2 separate regions of the Homo sapiens genome follow, and region 2 is linked to region 1. The links come from fine-mapping of genetic effects on gene expression. Tissue or cell type: fibroblasts. Region 1 holds a variant in brackets; the other region holds the start of a gene. All regions are shown on one strand. Distances are between the middles of the regions. Region 1 holds the start of LOC107986422 (a long non-coding RNA gene). Region 2 holds the start of MRPS27 (mitochondrial ribosomal protein S27).

Region 1 (8,338 bases):
TGGCTCATGCCTGTAATCCCAGCACTTTGGGAGGCCGAGGTAGGCAGATCACCTGAGGTCAGGAGTTCAAGACCGGCCTTGCCAACATGGTGAAACCCTATCTCTACAAAAACACAAAAATTAGCCAGGCGTGGTGGCAACTGCCTGTAATCCCAGCTACTTGGGAGGCTGAGGCAGGAGAATTGCTTGAACTTGGGAGGTGGAGGCTGCAGTGAGCCAAGATCGTGCTACCGCACTCCAGCCTGCATGACAGAGACTCCATCTCAATAAAAAACAAACAAACAAACAAAAAAAATTGACAAAAGATTCGAACACTTTACCAAAGGAAATATCATTACTCATTGGGCAAATAATTAAAGCCACAATAAGATACCACTAAACACATGTTGGTATGGCTAAATGTGTTGGCACAAATGTGGAGGAAGCGGAACTGCTGTTGGGACTATAAATGGTATAATCACTTCAGAAAACAATTTGGTAGTTTCTTAAAAAGTTAAACATTTACTTACCATATGCTCCAATCATTCTACCCCTAGCTATTTATCCCACAGAAATGAAAGCACGCATCTATACAAAGACTTGTGCATGGATGTCTGCAGCAGCACATACTCCTAGGGACTCAGGACTGGAGTCTGCAGAGGTACATAGTTAGCACACCAGAGGAATAAAATGGAATAACCATCTAAGGTATGAGATCATTCTGGGAAAGCTAGGTGGAATGCTTAAGCCAAAGCCAAAAAAATACCTTGAAGGTTCACTCTTCCTATGATGAGGCTCCAGATGAAATAATAAGACCAGTGGGAAGAGAAGTAGAGTCTGAAGCAGTGGAGGGCAAGAATTCTTTTTTTTTTTTTTTGAGATGGAGTCTTGCTCTGTCGCCCAGGCTGGAGTGCAATGGCATGATCTCGGCTCACTGCAAGCTCCGCCTCCTGGGTTCATGCCGTTCTCCCGCCTTAGCCTCCCATGTAGCTGGGTCTACAGGCGCCCACCACCATGCCCAGCTAATTTTGTTTTTGTATTTTTAGCAAAGACGGGGTTTCACTGTGTTAGCAAGGATGGTCTCGATCTCCTGACCTCGTGATCTGCCCGCCTCGGCTCCCAAAGTGCTGGGATTACAGGCGTGAGCCACTGCGCCCGGCCATGGAGGCCAAGAATTCTAATCCTTATCACAAAGCTCCCATGATCTCTGGCAATGCATGCACTATGACCAACGATCTGCTATTTTCCAGTACAGAGCTATTAACAATAATAAGCAATCTCCCAGGCCTGTGGTAAGGATCAGCAAATAAGAACTAAATAAAGAACTAGGCAATATTAAAGTATAGAAGTGCTACTAAAAAATGCTCTCAGACTCATTTCTCTCCCCTTGGGTTCTTACTCTTTTCTTAATAATGTTCAGGCATAATGCGACCTGGCAATATGCTAACAGAAAAATTTAAGATTACCTTTTATTGCTGTGAAACACAAAGTCTCTACGCCCTCAAAGGAAAATTACTGCTGCGTAAACGAATGCATGCTGTTCCCTCTTAATAATCCCTCTTAATAAACTCCCACCTTCCCCTTTTCCTACAGGCAGAAATGGATTTTTACAACATAGGCCTGGGGTGGTGCTATAGCCTTCCAAGGAACCATTGGGTATTTTTGCTTCATGAAAAATGAAGCTATTTTGGTCCTTCCTTTTTAGGCTGGCTGCCAACCCAGGACCTGGAGACATGCAGGCTGCCATCTGCCTTGGCCCAGCTGTTCCTGACCTGCTATCCATCTCCAACCAGGGATACCTGGGATCTGCCAGGTTGGCTAAGCAAATAGTGAAAGATACTTGAGACCCACGTACAGCATGGATGAATGTGTTGGCAGTACACAGCTTGCCACGCAATCTGAACTTCCTTTCTTACTGGGTGGCATGCCACTCTCCATAGCAACACTGAGAGCTGTATTCTGAGAAAAACTCATCTTCCACTGAGCTTTGCAACAGTCTTTTCTTATTGTATAACAATTCAGCATTCCCTACATGTTTGCTAAAAACTAAAAGGCTGCTTTAAAAGAATGCTATATTCTTTTTTTTTTTTGAGACAGGGGTCTCACTCTGTCACCTACGCTGGAGTACAGTGGTATGACCTCGGTTCACTGCAGCCTCGACCTCCCAAGCTCAGGTGATCTTCCCACCTCAGTCTCCCAGGTAGTTGGGACTACAGGTGTGCACCACCACACCCGGCTAATTTTTTGTATCTTTTTATAGAGATAAGGTTTGTTATGTTGCCCAGGCTGGTATTAAACCCCTGTGCTCAAGCAATCCGTCTGCCCCAAGTGCTGGGATTACAGGCATGAGCCGCTGTGCCTGGCCTAAAAAAAAATTTACATCCTTAATATAAGGAGTATATGTTATATATGTTAGAAATTTCTATGACTTATCCTTCAGGAATGACTGTTACGTTGCAGATCAAATTATCAGTTCTGATTATTGACACCCGGATAGTAGAAGGAGCAAGTTTAATTTCATACATCTCTAAACTACCATGGTCCCAACATGATTCGAAGGCCTATGTAAGCCTTTAAAAATGCAATTTGCAAATATCCTCAGTGAAGATGAGGACACTAAGTGGAAAGAGGAAATTTTTATGGCTTGAGTTTGCATTTTAGCAATGCAGTAATCAAATACTAACACAAGAATGGTTAAAGCTTGTCATAACCATGAAAATAATGGTTTTTGCCAATGGCACAATTTTACCAGTAACATGCTGTTTTATCTCCTGAAAATAGAGACATAGAGCCCGCCCCAAGGTTCACTTGTCTGCATTTGGGCAGTATACATTGGGCATGTGGACTTGGAGGTTATGGGGGGAAAGCTCAGAACTACAGACTAGGTGGCCCAGGAAAGATGCTCTCTACAAGATGAAAAAGGAAAAAGTTCCCATTGTATAAAACTCTACATACACTCACCATAACTGACTCCAGGCAGACAGATCCCTTTTAAAAGGGGATCTCTTATAGAGGAACAGCTAAGCCTGGTCTCTCTGGAATTTCTTCTGCCTTAGTTTCCTATAAAGAAATTGTAGCCCCATCTGCGATCCTTAACAATAAACCTTGCACTGAGACAGCACTGCATTGTTTTTATAGCATTGCCCCACTGCTCACATCTGATCCTTGTGGTTTCTCTCTCAGGACAGGCAGTGGCTTATACTTAAGTCTCTATGTTGGGTGTGCTCAGCCAATCTCTATGTTTTAGTCTCTGCATCAGTAAAATAAAGATGCAAATCTAATTCTTAGGAATGCTCTAAGTTTATAGTAAAGCAAAGGTAGGAACCCTTTTCTCTTCCAAATATTAACAAGAGGGCGTGTGGATAGGAAGTAGAAATTAATCCTTTGCCCAGAAAAAGAAAGTATTTTGCCTAACTGTTTTTAAAATTAACATGGGATATAAAAATTCTTTTAAACAAATATAAAAAATAAATGCAGTCTTTTTATGCCCACTGAACAGACATTTCCTGTCAGCAGCTGTTAGCTGAGCTGTTCTGTTACCTCTCTTTTCTGCGTCACAGAACCTTTGCTGCTACCACTGGGAAAGAGCATGACTTCTTACCTCACCAAGGACTGGGTGATGGTGATATCAAAATAAAGCGGAAATGCTCCTGTCTAGCACCCTGCCAGCGCTGGTCTCCTGACAGGTAGCATCTCAGGGCCTGTCCAAATCTTCTCACTCCTCACCACACCTTTTTTCCGGTGCTGTAGGGAAACTTGGGAGACTGGCTGTATCTAAATTTTCATTGTGAAGACAGAAAACCCATCAATTATATGCTTGTCTTACTTGGTAAGGTCTAAACTAAGAAAGTCTTCTTTGTAAGAAGAGAAAACAAAGACCCAGAGTATTTAAAACCCAAAAAACCTAAGGGAAGAAATAAAAATAAGTCTAAGCAAAAGAACCTATTTTTCAAACAAGATCTCACAGCAGGGTTCCTAACAATTTTTTGTCTTGAACCCTCTGGCAGTCTGATGAAGGCTTCTCAGAATTAGTTTCTTACAACAGAAACCAATTATATTGAAATACAATTATCAAGATATTAAGAAATCTTTGGGATATGGTAACATATGTGCTGCTTTATTAATGCATGAAATAA[C/G]ACTAGCTAGCGGTAGGTTTAATTACTAACATAATTTCTAAGCAGTGATATCTGTAACAAATGTAATGTGATATGAAAAAATCAATGATTTTTATTGGCAAGAAAGACACAGATGCTGTTAATATTATAGTCATCTGCTGCCTACATTCATAAATGAAAGAAATGCTAAATATTATTGAGGTTAGTGAAAATAAAAATATAATTTTATTCTTATGCAAGTTCACAGTCCTCTCTGAATTTTCTCTGTAGACACCGATAAGGCAGCTGGAGGCACAGTTTCTCTGGCAGAAACAGAAGCAAAAGCAAATGGCCTGTGGCAGCATGGTCTGGCCTATCTCCAGACCTATTCTTCCCCCAAGCCACGCCCTAGAGGGCCTATAAGAAACTAGCTCCAGGGCTTCTCAGAAGACAGCTTGAAAACCACTCATAAAGAGGTTTACCATTTAGCCTGCTAGTAATATCTGTGCAAGAGCACACCTATGCCTATTTTCCCAACCTCCCGGCTTAAACTATACATATCGTATAAAGTCCCTGGCTCAAATCCTTATTTCATTTTACTGTATTTATTTTTTATTATCTTATTTAAGTTTTCTTTATTTGTCACAGCCCAACAGTATGCCTTGTTTCCTTATTTTGTTTATTTTACTTTGTTTTAACTTTGTTGCTATTTTAATCACTTTTACTCTTGGTTTATTTTCCTTTTATATGGGTATTACCAGTTTTTTTTTTTTTTTTTTTTTGGCCAATGAATATAGTTGCTGGTATTGCCTTAATCATTTTTAGTTCACATTATTCTTTGGTTAGAGCTTCACCCTTTCCTTGGTGTTTTCATTTTTTATTTATAAATAGAAGGCAAAAGTTGATCATAGGATTGCCAGCTCCCAGAGAATAGACCACGGCCCAAATAAAAGTACTTAGAAATTTGTTCTCCTGCCTGCTGTCTGAATAGCAGCCTTTCTATCTCTCCTTAAAAGATCCCTTTAATGTTGAAGTCCCTAAACATTTAAGCCTATGTACTTTCAGAGATTCAAAACTTGAAATCTTCTGCTGGGATGATAGGGTGATAATAAGCTGGCAGGTACCAGCAGCACCCTGAGCTGCTGGAACTTGGAACTGTTTACTTGTGTGCCTGATGCAATGGCAGAAGCTCAATCAGCTCTTCACTGATCATTCAAGGTTTCTAAACTTCTTTGGCTCTAGACTTTACATAATAATTGCGGAAATTTGATCACTAGAAGAGGAGAAGATGTGGCAGCTACACTCCTGCTAGCAGAGCCTGGTGTTCACAGGTTATGTCAGAGAAAGAGGTGAACCAATGCCAAAGTTCTCCTGTGGGCTTGTCTGTTAAAGACGGTACTGCTTAAGGACTGAGAAATCCTAACCCCAGGCCTGCAAGCTGTGAGTTGTATAAAATTAAGAAGTTCCTTTTTCATTTCCTCACCTTAGACCTGGAATTGTAAGTTTGCTCCGAGATGTCTAAAGTCATCCCATGAGGAGATGTTAGGCATCATAATGATTGAAGGCCTAACTGGTAGAAATATTACACAGCAGTAAGTCCTTGGTGTCTTCAGGATTAACATCCCTGATTTTGATTACTTGAGATAAACCCCAAGAGTTTATAACTTGTAATTTTTAATTTTGCTAAGGCATAAGTATGTTCTGTATATTCTCTAAGGGTGGAAAGCAAGAGTGAGGCACTTAGCTAACGAGAGAACCCAGCCAATCTCCACTGTTCCGACGCAGCTTTGTAGAGTTCTACCTAGTCTCATATATATACAAGCACATGAAGTCATAAAAACATTTCTGTCTTAAAAAAAAAAAAAGCTGATAAAAAGAGAGTCAATTTTCTTGGTAATGGAAGGGAGGAGAAAGAACTAAGATAAACGATAAATCATAGCTAAAGAACTAGTTTTGATTAAAGCAAAAAATGGGATGTCCAATTAAACAGTGGCTCAGATTTATGATGGACAAGAGTCTTTTATTTGATCTATATGGAAATAGGACGTAGTGATCTTATGAAACTTTCAGTTATACCCCAGGCCACACAAAACTGAACATCATGTGAAGAATTAATCATAGAAGGTCTTAAAAACAGAATTTCAACTTTTCAGTAATACTTGGAGAATGTCTAACTTATTCAACATTAGATATCCAGCACCCAGGAAAGGGCCTGCGCACATAATAGGTGCTCGGTAAATACTTGTTGAAATGCTGAGTCACTGAAATCAATTTGATGCTACAGAAGTACTTCTGAATTTGGAACATACTTCTCCCAACACTATGGCACTGTATCTCACAGGATGAAATTCTAAAAAACAGTTTATATTTAGAAATTGAAACTATGTTCTGCATTTTGCTATAAATAAAAATATGAGAACTGGCCAGATGCCAGCCCAAATACACCCTTCATCACAGACAAAAAGTAACTACCAAAGCAGCCCTACAGTCCCAAAGAGCCACTAAAGGAAGGCAGGGCCACCTCTCATCAAGGGGTTCGTTTATCTTTATCCTAATGAAGTACAAGAGGGCACTCACAACTAAGATGACTTGCAACTAAGTTAGGACCTAAAATTTCAACTTAGGACATTGTTAAAGCCAATCTGAGATTTAAAATAAATGTTTTTTAAAGGTGTGGAATCTAGCCTACTTGAGGTTTACATTTAAATAGAAAATACCCAAAAAGTGGTAGCATCTACCCAATTCAGAAATTAAAAAAAAAGCCTCATTATTATTTAGCAAAATCAGAGAAAAACGAATACATTTTCACTAAAATACAGTAAGCTTTAAAAAATGCATCTAGAAAAAAACTACTCCCCAAAAAACCCCCCAAAACAACAACAACAACAACAAAAAATAAAAATGCATCTAGACAGAAACAACTAAAAATTCTCTTGATCAAAACAAGCAAGATCAAATGGGAAACTCTAATGCAATGCTTACTGGAAACATTTAAAATTTCAATCTGAGTCTATTTTTGGAACATAGGAACTGGAACAAATCACAAATCAGATTTTTAAAACTGAAATCGCAATAAAAATTTAGTTGTAAGGTACAATTCTGACAGATACTTGTTTGACCAGTTCTTTATTTAATGTGCATTAGGTTGTTTCAGTCTTTTGCTACCATAAATGATGTTGCACTGAACATACTTTTTGTACACATGGCTGAGTTTTGTGGGTAGTTCACAATGGAATTGTTAGCAGCTGTGAGAAAGAGTGAAGTAAATGTGGTAATGTAGAAAAGGTTTTAAAACAGTGTTAACTGAAAATAGGTACATAACAGTTCACATCGGGTAAAATTCCACCTGTAAAAAAAAAAAGGAGAGAAGAGATATACATACAGATTGAGTATCTCTAATTTGAAAAGTTCCAAAATCCACAATTTTTTGAGCACCAACATGATGTTCAAAGGAAATGCTCATTGAAGCATTGTGGATTTTCGAATTAGAGGTACTCAAACAGTAAGTATAATGCAAATATTCAAAAATCTAAAAAAATCCAAAATCTGAAACACTTCTGGTTTCAAGCATCTTAGATAAGAGATACTCAACTTGTGTGTGTGTGTGTTTGTGTGTGTGTGTATAAATTTTCACCTATCAGATTGGCAAAAAAATGCAAACATGTGAAAATACCTAACTATTGGCCAAGCTGTAAAAATACATGTCTCTCATACCTTGCTAGTGGGAATGTAAAAACTTCAACAGAAAGCAATTTGTCAATAGCGATTAAAACTATAAATATATATACTCATGAAAATTAGGTGAAAAATTACATACGTACAAGGTTATCAATTATAACATCGTATACAATACAAAAAAGAGAACAACCTAGAGGTCCATAAAAAGGGAACTGGTTTAAATAATAAACTCACAGTATGGAATAAAATGCAGTTATAAAAAATCAGAAACTCTCTCTATACTCATATGAAAAGATCTTTAAAATATAAACTTAGAAGGTGTCAAAATTATACACAACATATACCAACTTTTATGTAAAAAAGGGGTGTGAAATCACAGAGTACATAGCCAAATCAAATGGAAAACTTACTTGTAAAGGTAATACTCTGCATGATCTATCTCTTCCCGAGAGGAAATGTTGTCTATAAGCTAAAAGACAGAAAAAGAAACCTTTGGTTGAATATAAATTATGTCATATATTTGGCCTAGGGCCTAGATCACACATTGACCTTAGAAAACACAGGACACCCATTTTATTGGAACGATG
Region 2 (8,338 bases), 29 kb after region 1:
TGCTTGGATAATTTTTTGTATTTTTAGTAGAGACGGGGTTTCACCATAATAGCCAGGCTGGTCTCGAACTCCTACCTTAGGAGATCCCCCAGCCTTGGCCTCCCAAAGTGCTGGGATTACAGGCGTGAGCCACCATGCCTGGCCTGAATTGTGTATTTTAAATGGATGAATTGTATGGCATGTGAATTATACCTCAATAACTCTGTTTAAAAAAATAGAAAAACAGCCAGGTGCAGTGGCTCATGCCTGTAATCCCAGCACTTTGGGAGGCCGAGGTGGGCGGATCACCTGAGGTCGGGAGTTCGAGGCGAGCCTGACCAACATGGAGAAACCTTGCCTCTACTAAAAATACAAAATTAGCCAGGCGTGGTGGTGCATGCCTGTAATCCCAGGTACTTGGGAGGCTGAGGCAAGAGAATCCCTTGAAGCCAGGAGGTGGAGGTTGTGGTGAGCCGAGATCACGCCATTGCATTCCAACCTGGGCAATAAGAGCGAAACTCCGTCTCAAAAAAAAAAAAAAACAAACAGAAAAAATGACAGATAATTATGCTGAGGTCACAGCAGACCAAAAGCCCAACACAACTAGATAGCATGGGGGCTGATTAAACACAGTATTGGAATGCTGTTTTTATTCTCTACCTACTTTCCAGCTCAAACAAATAAACAAATACAAACACATCTGTGTGAATTTATACACAGTTCATTCTCTTACTGTGAACACAGATCTTTACTAGAATAATATATCTAAATTTGAGTTCTACAAATTAAATAATGAGGCAACAATAAGGTTTCCAAAGACGCTTTCAAAAGGAGAACTAAGAAAAGACTATAATTATTTAAATTAATTTCCATTTATTTTTTCGTTTTGGAAATGGAGTTTCGCTCTTGTTGCCCAGGCTGGAGTGCAATGGCATGATCTCAGCTCACTGCAACCGGAAGGCGGAGGCCTTCCAGGTTCAAGCGATTCTCCTGCCTCAGCCTCCTGAGTAGCTGGGATTTCAGGCATGCGCCACCACGCCTAATTTTGTATTTTTAATAGAGACAGGGTTTCTCCATGTTGGCCAGGCTGGTCTCAAACTCCTGACCTCAGGTGATCCACCCACCTCAGCCTCCCAAAGTGCTGGGATTACAGGTGTGAGCCACCACACCCGGCCTAATTTTATTTATTATTATTATTTTTTTGAGATGGAGTATCTCTCTGTTGCCCAGGCTGGAGTGTAGTGGCATGATCTTGGCTCACTGCAACCTTTGCCTCCAGGGTTCAAGCAATTCTCCTGCCCCAGGGGGATGGTTCTAGAATACCCCCTCAAATACCAAAATCTGAGAATGCAGAAGTCTCTTACATAAAATTGCACAGTATTTGCAAATAACCCACAAACATCCTCCTGCATTACTTTAAGCTGGGGTGTCCATTTTTTTGGCTTCCCTGGTCACATTGGAAGAAGAACAATTGTCTTGGGCCACACATACATAAACTACACTAACACTAATGATAGCTGATGGGCAAACAAACAAAACAAAAAATGCTAAAAATCTCCTAATATTTTAGTTAAGTTTACAAATTTGTGTTGGGCCACATTCAAAACTGTCCTGGGCTGAGGGTTGGACAAGCTGCTTTAAGTCATTTGTAGATTACTTATAATACCTAACACAATGTAAACGCAATGTAAGTGGTTGTCATGTTGTATTTTCTTTGTATTATTTTACTGTTGTATTATTTTTTATTGTTAGTTTTTGTTTTGTTTTGTAGTATTTTGATCCGCTGTTGGTTGACTCTGCAGATGCAGAATGCTCGGATAAGGAAGCCAACTGTACTCCCGCATACCAGCTACTTGCTTACTCTCTATTTATTATCTGTTATTCTCTATGCCTTCATTCTAGCATATGCTTCATTCTAGCATAAGTAATCACCTTTCTACATTCTGGAGTCAGGACAATATCTAGATCATTGCTCAAGAGTTCTGAACTGGGAGATTAAAAAGCTGGGCCAGCTGGGCACAGTGGCTCACGCCCGTAATCCCAGCACCTTGGGAAGTAGAGGCGGGTGGATCACCTGAGGTCAGGAGTTAGAGACCAGCCTGACCAACATGGAGAAACCCCGTCTCTACTGAAAATACAAAATTAGCCGGGAGTGGTGGCGCATGCCTGTAATCTCAGCTACTCGGGAGGCTGAGGCAGGAGAATCACTTGAACCCGGGAGGCAGAGGCTGCAGTAAGCCGAGATCGTGCCATTGCACTCTAACCTGGGCAACAAGAACGAAACCCGAAAAAAAAAAAAAAGGCTGGGGAGGTGATTGTGGGGAAAGACAGGTCTCCCAAAATGCCCTCTGTGTGTAGTTGTTCACGGAAACCACATAAACAGAAAATAGCTACAACAGCTAATTCTTACTAAGGTGTCAAGCGTTGTGCATAACACTGCCTAATGTGTGACATTAAACGTTTTCACCAGGTCAGCCACTTAATCTTCAGAAAACTGGTGGCCAACTCTGAGGTTTCACATTGACGTTTAATGGCTGTTCCTAAAGAAGTGCGTGCTTTTTAAAAAAATAGAGGATGGGAGGTAGGTTGGAAAGGGAAGATAAGCGGCAATGGAAAAATCGAGTGTGATTATTGCATTTTTATCAAATATGTCTGTCTGGATTATGTGGTTAGAATCACTGCAAATTTGGCTTCTATAAATACTTTAAAACTTTTTTCCAATGTTTTCATTATCAGATCCACTATGCAGGCTTTGAGTGGGCTGCCATTTAGTTCAGATATCAAAGTATTTTACAAGTAACTAATAGCATTTATTATCTACACGTGGAAAACTATAGCAAAGAAAGGTCAATCAAAAGTTGTGCTCTAGGTCATCAGATAAAATGAGATTAATACTGAAAAATTCTTCCACGAAGACCAGGGGTCCAGCTAAATGTGTGGTGGTGGGAAAAATGTTTATCTGACGTCCCTCTAAAGAAACCTCAGATGGGAGAAAAATGTCCCAGCCCCAGGAATGGACACATTTAGGTTTTTCCTTTTTTTTTTTTTTTTTTTTTTTTGAGACAGGGTCTCGCTCTGTTGCCCAGGCTGGAGTGTAGTGGCGCGATCTCTGCTCACTGCAACCTCCGCCTCCCGAGTTCAAGCGATTATCCTGCCTCAGCCCCCCGAGTAGCTGGGATTACAGGCGCGCGCCACCAGGCCCAGATAATTTCTTTGTATTTTTTAGTAGAGATGGGGTTTCGCCCTGTTGGCCAGGCTGGTCTCGAACTCCTGGCGATCCGCCCGCCTCGCGTTCCCAAAGTGCTGGGACCACAGGCGTGGGCCACCGCGCCCGGCGCACATTTGGGTTTTTCGTGGTCAGCAAAAGCACGACCACCCCAACACATAAATCTGGCGAATCATACGCAAATTCCCTCATGCTATATAACCTTCCACTGCTCTTCGTACCTTTGGACAGGAACATACTGTTATTTTAGGGAAGGAAATGGATCAGATACCTTGTCTCCTTCTTCTGCACTACCAAACACCCCAAATGGCGTCCCTAGCAATCAGATTCCAGAAACGTTTCCTCTCCTCTTGAAAGCCCACCGCTCCCTTCACCCAAAAAACAGAATAATCAGGGGCCTAATGAAGCTGTCCGGCCAACCTGCAGGAGAGAGCTGAGGAAGAACCACTTGCCGCGCCAGGAGCATCCCGCGCCGCACTATGGAGGCAGCCATCTTGGAGCGTACCAAAAGGAACAGCCAACGGGTTACGGACAGAGGAAGGGGCGGGGTTACAGCTCGACCTCTCGGGGCGCCCAGAATTGGACGAATCCCTTTTGTCGCTCTCGACGACAGGACCGACGCTCCGCCTCCTCGCCCCGGTTCCAGTAGTTGGTATGGTCCGAGACAGTATGGCTGCTGCATTTCGGCCCTCGAATCGAGTTCTCCTGCAGGCGCTGCAGATTTTGGTGTATCCTGGGGTGGGAGGCTCCGGCTCTGTCAGCTGCCGCTGCCCTCTCGGAGGTATCCGCGGCTTTAGCCTAGGGAAGGAGGGGAGGGATGGGAGAGAAGGGAGTGTTAGATCCCAGCTAGCATCTCTGTGGAGCAGCCACAGCTCCTAAGTCACTCACTGGCCTGGAGCGCACCCTCGCCCTCTAGTTGCACGTGGGTGCAGTGGTGACCACTGGGGGTCGTGGATACCCCCAGTGCCTGCAAATCGAAGGACTGCTGGGGTATTGACCTTGGGGCTGTAGTGCTCCCTCAGATGGGGCGACGTTCGTCTTCAGGAACATCCCTCCCGCCTTGGGTGACTTTTATTTATTTATTTATTTATTTTTGAGACGAAGTCTTGCTCTGTCGCCCAAGCTGGAGTGCGGTGGCGCGATCTCGGCTCACTGCAGCCTCCGCCTCCCGGGTTCAAGCGATTCTCCTGCCTCAGCTTTCCGAGTAGTTGGGACTACAGGCGTGCGCCACCACGCCCGGGTAATTTTTTGTATTTTTAGTAGAGACGGGTTTCACTATGTTGGCCAGGCTGGTTTCGAACTCCTGACCTCGTGGTCCACCCGCCTCGGCCTCCCAAAGTGCTGGGATTATAGGAGTGAGCCACCGCGCCCGGCCTTTTTCTTTTCTGCAGAGTTTGGAAGCAGAGGTCTTATGGAGTCTCAGTTCTGCTAACAATCTAAAAGACTTAACGGCACGTTTCTTCATTTTTCAAAACTATCCTCTAACATCTCTATGAAGAGAGTTAAATCTGAAGATGCTAGTGAGTGATAGTAAAAATGTTTGTCAGGCATTACTTTAATGTAGTTTACATACATTAATTCCTTTTCTCTAGACAACACCCAGCAAGAGAAGTACCATTCTTTTCTCCATTTACAGAGGAGGAACAAGGTTAAGTAATTTGCCCAAAGTCAGAGGGAACTGTTAGAGGTGGGATTTGAACACACCCAACAATAGAAACCTGCTCCTAACCACTTCACTGGACTGCCTTTCTGTAAATAAATAGCAACTTTTATTGTTACCTTGTTACTGCAGCTCACAGAACTCTGTTAGTGCGTGATTCTTCGGCCACGCTTGGTCCGTTTTATCTCATGCACAGCCAAGGATCCTAAAGAAAGGATGATGTTTCCCAAATCTACTAAGCTGTGATCAATGATTTCCATGTATCTCAAATGTATTTTGAGTCCACATCTGAGAGGCCTTAACCCCCTCATTTCACAGAGGACAAAACTGGGAGTTCCAGTGGTCATGCTGCAGCTTTTTCCACTACACTGTGCTTCTCCCTGGATAAACCAAAACTAAATATGCCTGTTTTGCATTTAAATGTTATTAGTTTTTTTTTTAAATGCCCTTGATACCCTTAACCGATGGCAAATGCCCATTTGTACTTCAAATCCCAACTTCCTGTCAACCAGTCCCCACACAGGTTTATCACTAGCTACGGTTAATCACTAGCTTCTTTCACACACACAAATAAAACCTGTTTTGCTGAGGATTTGCATTCTCTGGTAGTTCAGAAATTGTTTTTCCCAGGATTTATATTTGTACAGTTTGTACAGTTATATTTGTACCTGTCTAATGGATTATCTATAATAGATGTTAGAGGTAATCCAGCTCTATTCATGTTATTTGCTAACTTCTAAAACAGTCAAAATGACTTTACTTTTTTCTTTCTCTGATTTTTAGCTAAAAGATACCTACTTACAGATAATGTGGTGAAATTAAAAGAATTTCAACAAAAGAAAGTGGCTGTTGCATGTAATCTTTCTGGCACTAAAGGTAATAGAATCTATTTTGTTAATTCTGTCATTTATCTGTCATTTAAGTTTCTCTGTCTTTATCCCTATTCAGTGTCTCCTTCAGTGACTTTATTATGCCTTAGAAAAAGTTGAGACCATTTATTGTTAGTTTCATAGTGAACTCTTATATTTATCTTGCATTTCATACTTTGCTGCTACAACGTCTACAGCTCTCCTCTTATTCCTTCTCTTACGATCCCAGAGAAGTATTAAAGCTAGTGCTGCGATTGGTCTTGTCTAAATCTGTGCCATTAAAAGTGAGGTTTGAGGACCAGCGGCATCAGCATCTATTGGGTGGTTGATAGAAGTGCAGAGAGAAAGGCCCCAGATCATTCATATGCACAATAAAGTTTAAAAACTTCAGATGATTGGCTTTCAAACTTTTTGATGTAACCTTCAGTGAAAAATGCATTTTATGTTGCATCTCAGTACACACAAACATATCTATATATAAATGAAATCAAATGAAACAAAACAGTACTATGTGTGATGATACATTTGGTATTTTTCACTCTGTGCTAGAAAAGTCAGTAGGATCAAAAATTTCTTAAAAAACAAGAGAAACCTGACTACCAAACCTAGGATTTGGCTGGGCATGATGGCTCATGCCTGTAACTCCAGCACTTTGGGAGGCCAAGGCAGGAGGATTGCTTGAGCCAGGGAGTTTGAGATCAGCCTGAGCAGCGTAGACCTCATCTCTACAAATTTTTTTAAAGTTAGTTGGGCGTGGTGGTGCATGCCTGTAGTCACAGCTACTCCAGGGACTGAGGTGGGAGGATTGCTTGAGCCTGGGAGGTCTAAGGTGCAGTAAGCCATGATCACACCACTGCACTCCAACCTGTGTAACAGAGTGAGACCCTGTCTCAAAAAAAAGATAAATCTGGGATTTGCTTTGAAAAAAAATCCAGTGTGTTTGAGGATTGTAGTGTAGAGGAAACATAATTAGCAAAATATTGATAATGATTGAGGCTGGGTAATGGCACTTAGTGAGGGGGATTATTATCCTGTTCTTTCATTTCTTGGGTATGTTTGAAAATTTTTGTTATAAAAAGCTACAAACAAGAACACCACCCTAGGTCTTTTTCCCTTTCAGCACCTGAAAAATCTTGTGCATTCATTCTCTCCCTCCTGCACATAGAGTTCTTCCCAGCATTTCATACCTTTTATTGTGTGTGGATGCAGCAGTGGTCCCTGGGGGTTGTGGATATACCTCCTTGATCCTCCTTTATGAACACATCTAAGACTTTCCTTTTTTTTTTAATAACTCTTGGTGTCCCTACTGACTTTTTCAACCATAGACCCAGCTCTCCTTCCTCTCACTGCCAGATGTTTGTGAGCTCCTGATTAACACATTAACATTCTCTTTGTTTTGGTTTGTTTTTTAAGAGACAGTCTCGCTCTGTCACCTAGGCTGGAGTGCAGTTGGCACCATCATAGCTCGCTGCAGCCTCAAACTCTTGGATTCAAGCAATCCTGCTTTAGCCTCCTGAGTAACTAGGACTACAGTGCCACCATACCGCCTAATTTTTAATTTTTAATTTTTTTTTGTAGAGATGGTCTCACTGTGTTGAGGCTGGTCTCGAACTCCCAGGCTCAAGCTAGTATCCCGCCTCAGTCTCCTAAAGTACAAGCGTGAGCCACTGCACCCATCCTGATACTTTCTGCCTCCATTCCCTCACAATTCAGTCCTCCAGAAATCAATGTTCTCTCGCTGCTCCGCTAATCATACTGTTATATAATACCATATAGGGGGCAAAAAAATAAACCTTTGGAATGGGGGGAATATATTTATCCCCAGTTGAGTAGGCTCAATCTAGATTTCACTTCAGTCTTTTCTTTCTACCCAGGTATTTTAGATCTATGTGAGGTTTGCAGTTAGGGCTTCATGTCATCCAGTTGTGATTTCCAGTTGTCATAGTCTTCATAAGTCTGTGGCAGTTGTGTACATGTTCTGAAAGGCAATTAATATAATCAGTGCCAATCTGCTCTATTGTCAGACTGATATGTTTAAAGTCCTGTCAACCTTTCATCATTTTGAGAGCCCACAGTGGTACTCTGTTGTATACCACACTATTAACATACTCATCTCTCTGGCATCCTGGCTCTCCCGTGATGGACTCCGCCCTTTCTAGGACGGTTTCTGGTTGATCTAGTCACAGCTTTTCCCTCCACACCTGTCATTCCCAGTTCTGTTCTGTTGCTCATGCTGATTTCCTTACCTAGAATATCCCCCTCCTCCATTTCTCCAACCTGATTTCAGCCCTTTCCTTTCTCACTGGTACCCCTCCACTTTCACCAACCTGGTCTGTTCTGAGTCATAATAGTAAAGGTTGTAACAGGACTCTTCTGTCCACTCTGAGTTGTAATAGGTGTCGTAACAGGACAGAAGAGTCTTATTATGTTTATAGTATTCATGTGTCACCTCCTCCATCATTGTTTTCAGGTAGCTTTGTATAAATTTAGCTTGCCCTCCCCAAAATGCTTTTAAGTTCTTTGAGGGCAGGAACTATTCCTTACGCTTCTTGGTGTCTCACACACAAAGAAGGATACTTCCGAGTATGATTATATGATAAACAA

What was found. PIP is the estimated chance that this variant, and not a neighbour inherited with it, causes the effect.
Region 2: MRPS27 starts here. The variant in region 1 is fine-mapped to the expression of MRPS27 in fibroblasts (GTEx, PIP above 0.99).

Annotation. Positions count from the first base shown.
Region 1 is chr5:72,287,370-72,295,707 of GRCh38, forward strand. MRPS27 (mitochondrial ribosomal protein S27) reads right to left here. Exons shown (of 11, transcript NM_015084.3): 4 at 8,162-8,220. It overlaps LOC107986422 (a long non-coding RNA gene), which reads right to left and starts at 8,155. Exons shown (of 2, transcript XR_001742742.2): 1 at 3,581-8,155. The variant C/G (reference allele first, on the strand shown) is at 4,116.
Region 2 is chr5:72,316,524-72,324,861 of GRCh38, forward strand. MRPS27 (mitochondrial ribosomal protein S27) reads right to left here and starts at 3,717. Exons shown (of 11, transcript NM_015084.3): 1 at 3,626-3,717. The coding sequence starts at 3,698. It overlaps PTCD2 (pentatricopeptide repeat domain 2), which reads left to right and starts at 3,850. Exons shown (of 10, transcript NM_024754.5): 1 at 3,850-3,986; 2 at 5,649-5,741. The coding sequence starts at 3,860. RefSeq lists enhancers at 2,768-3,309, 3,310-3,850, 3,449-3,778, 3,839-4,048.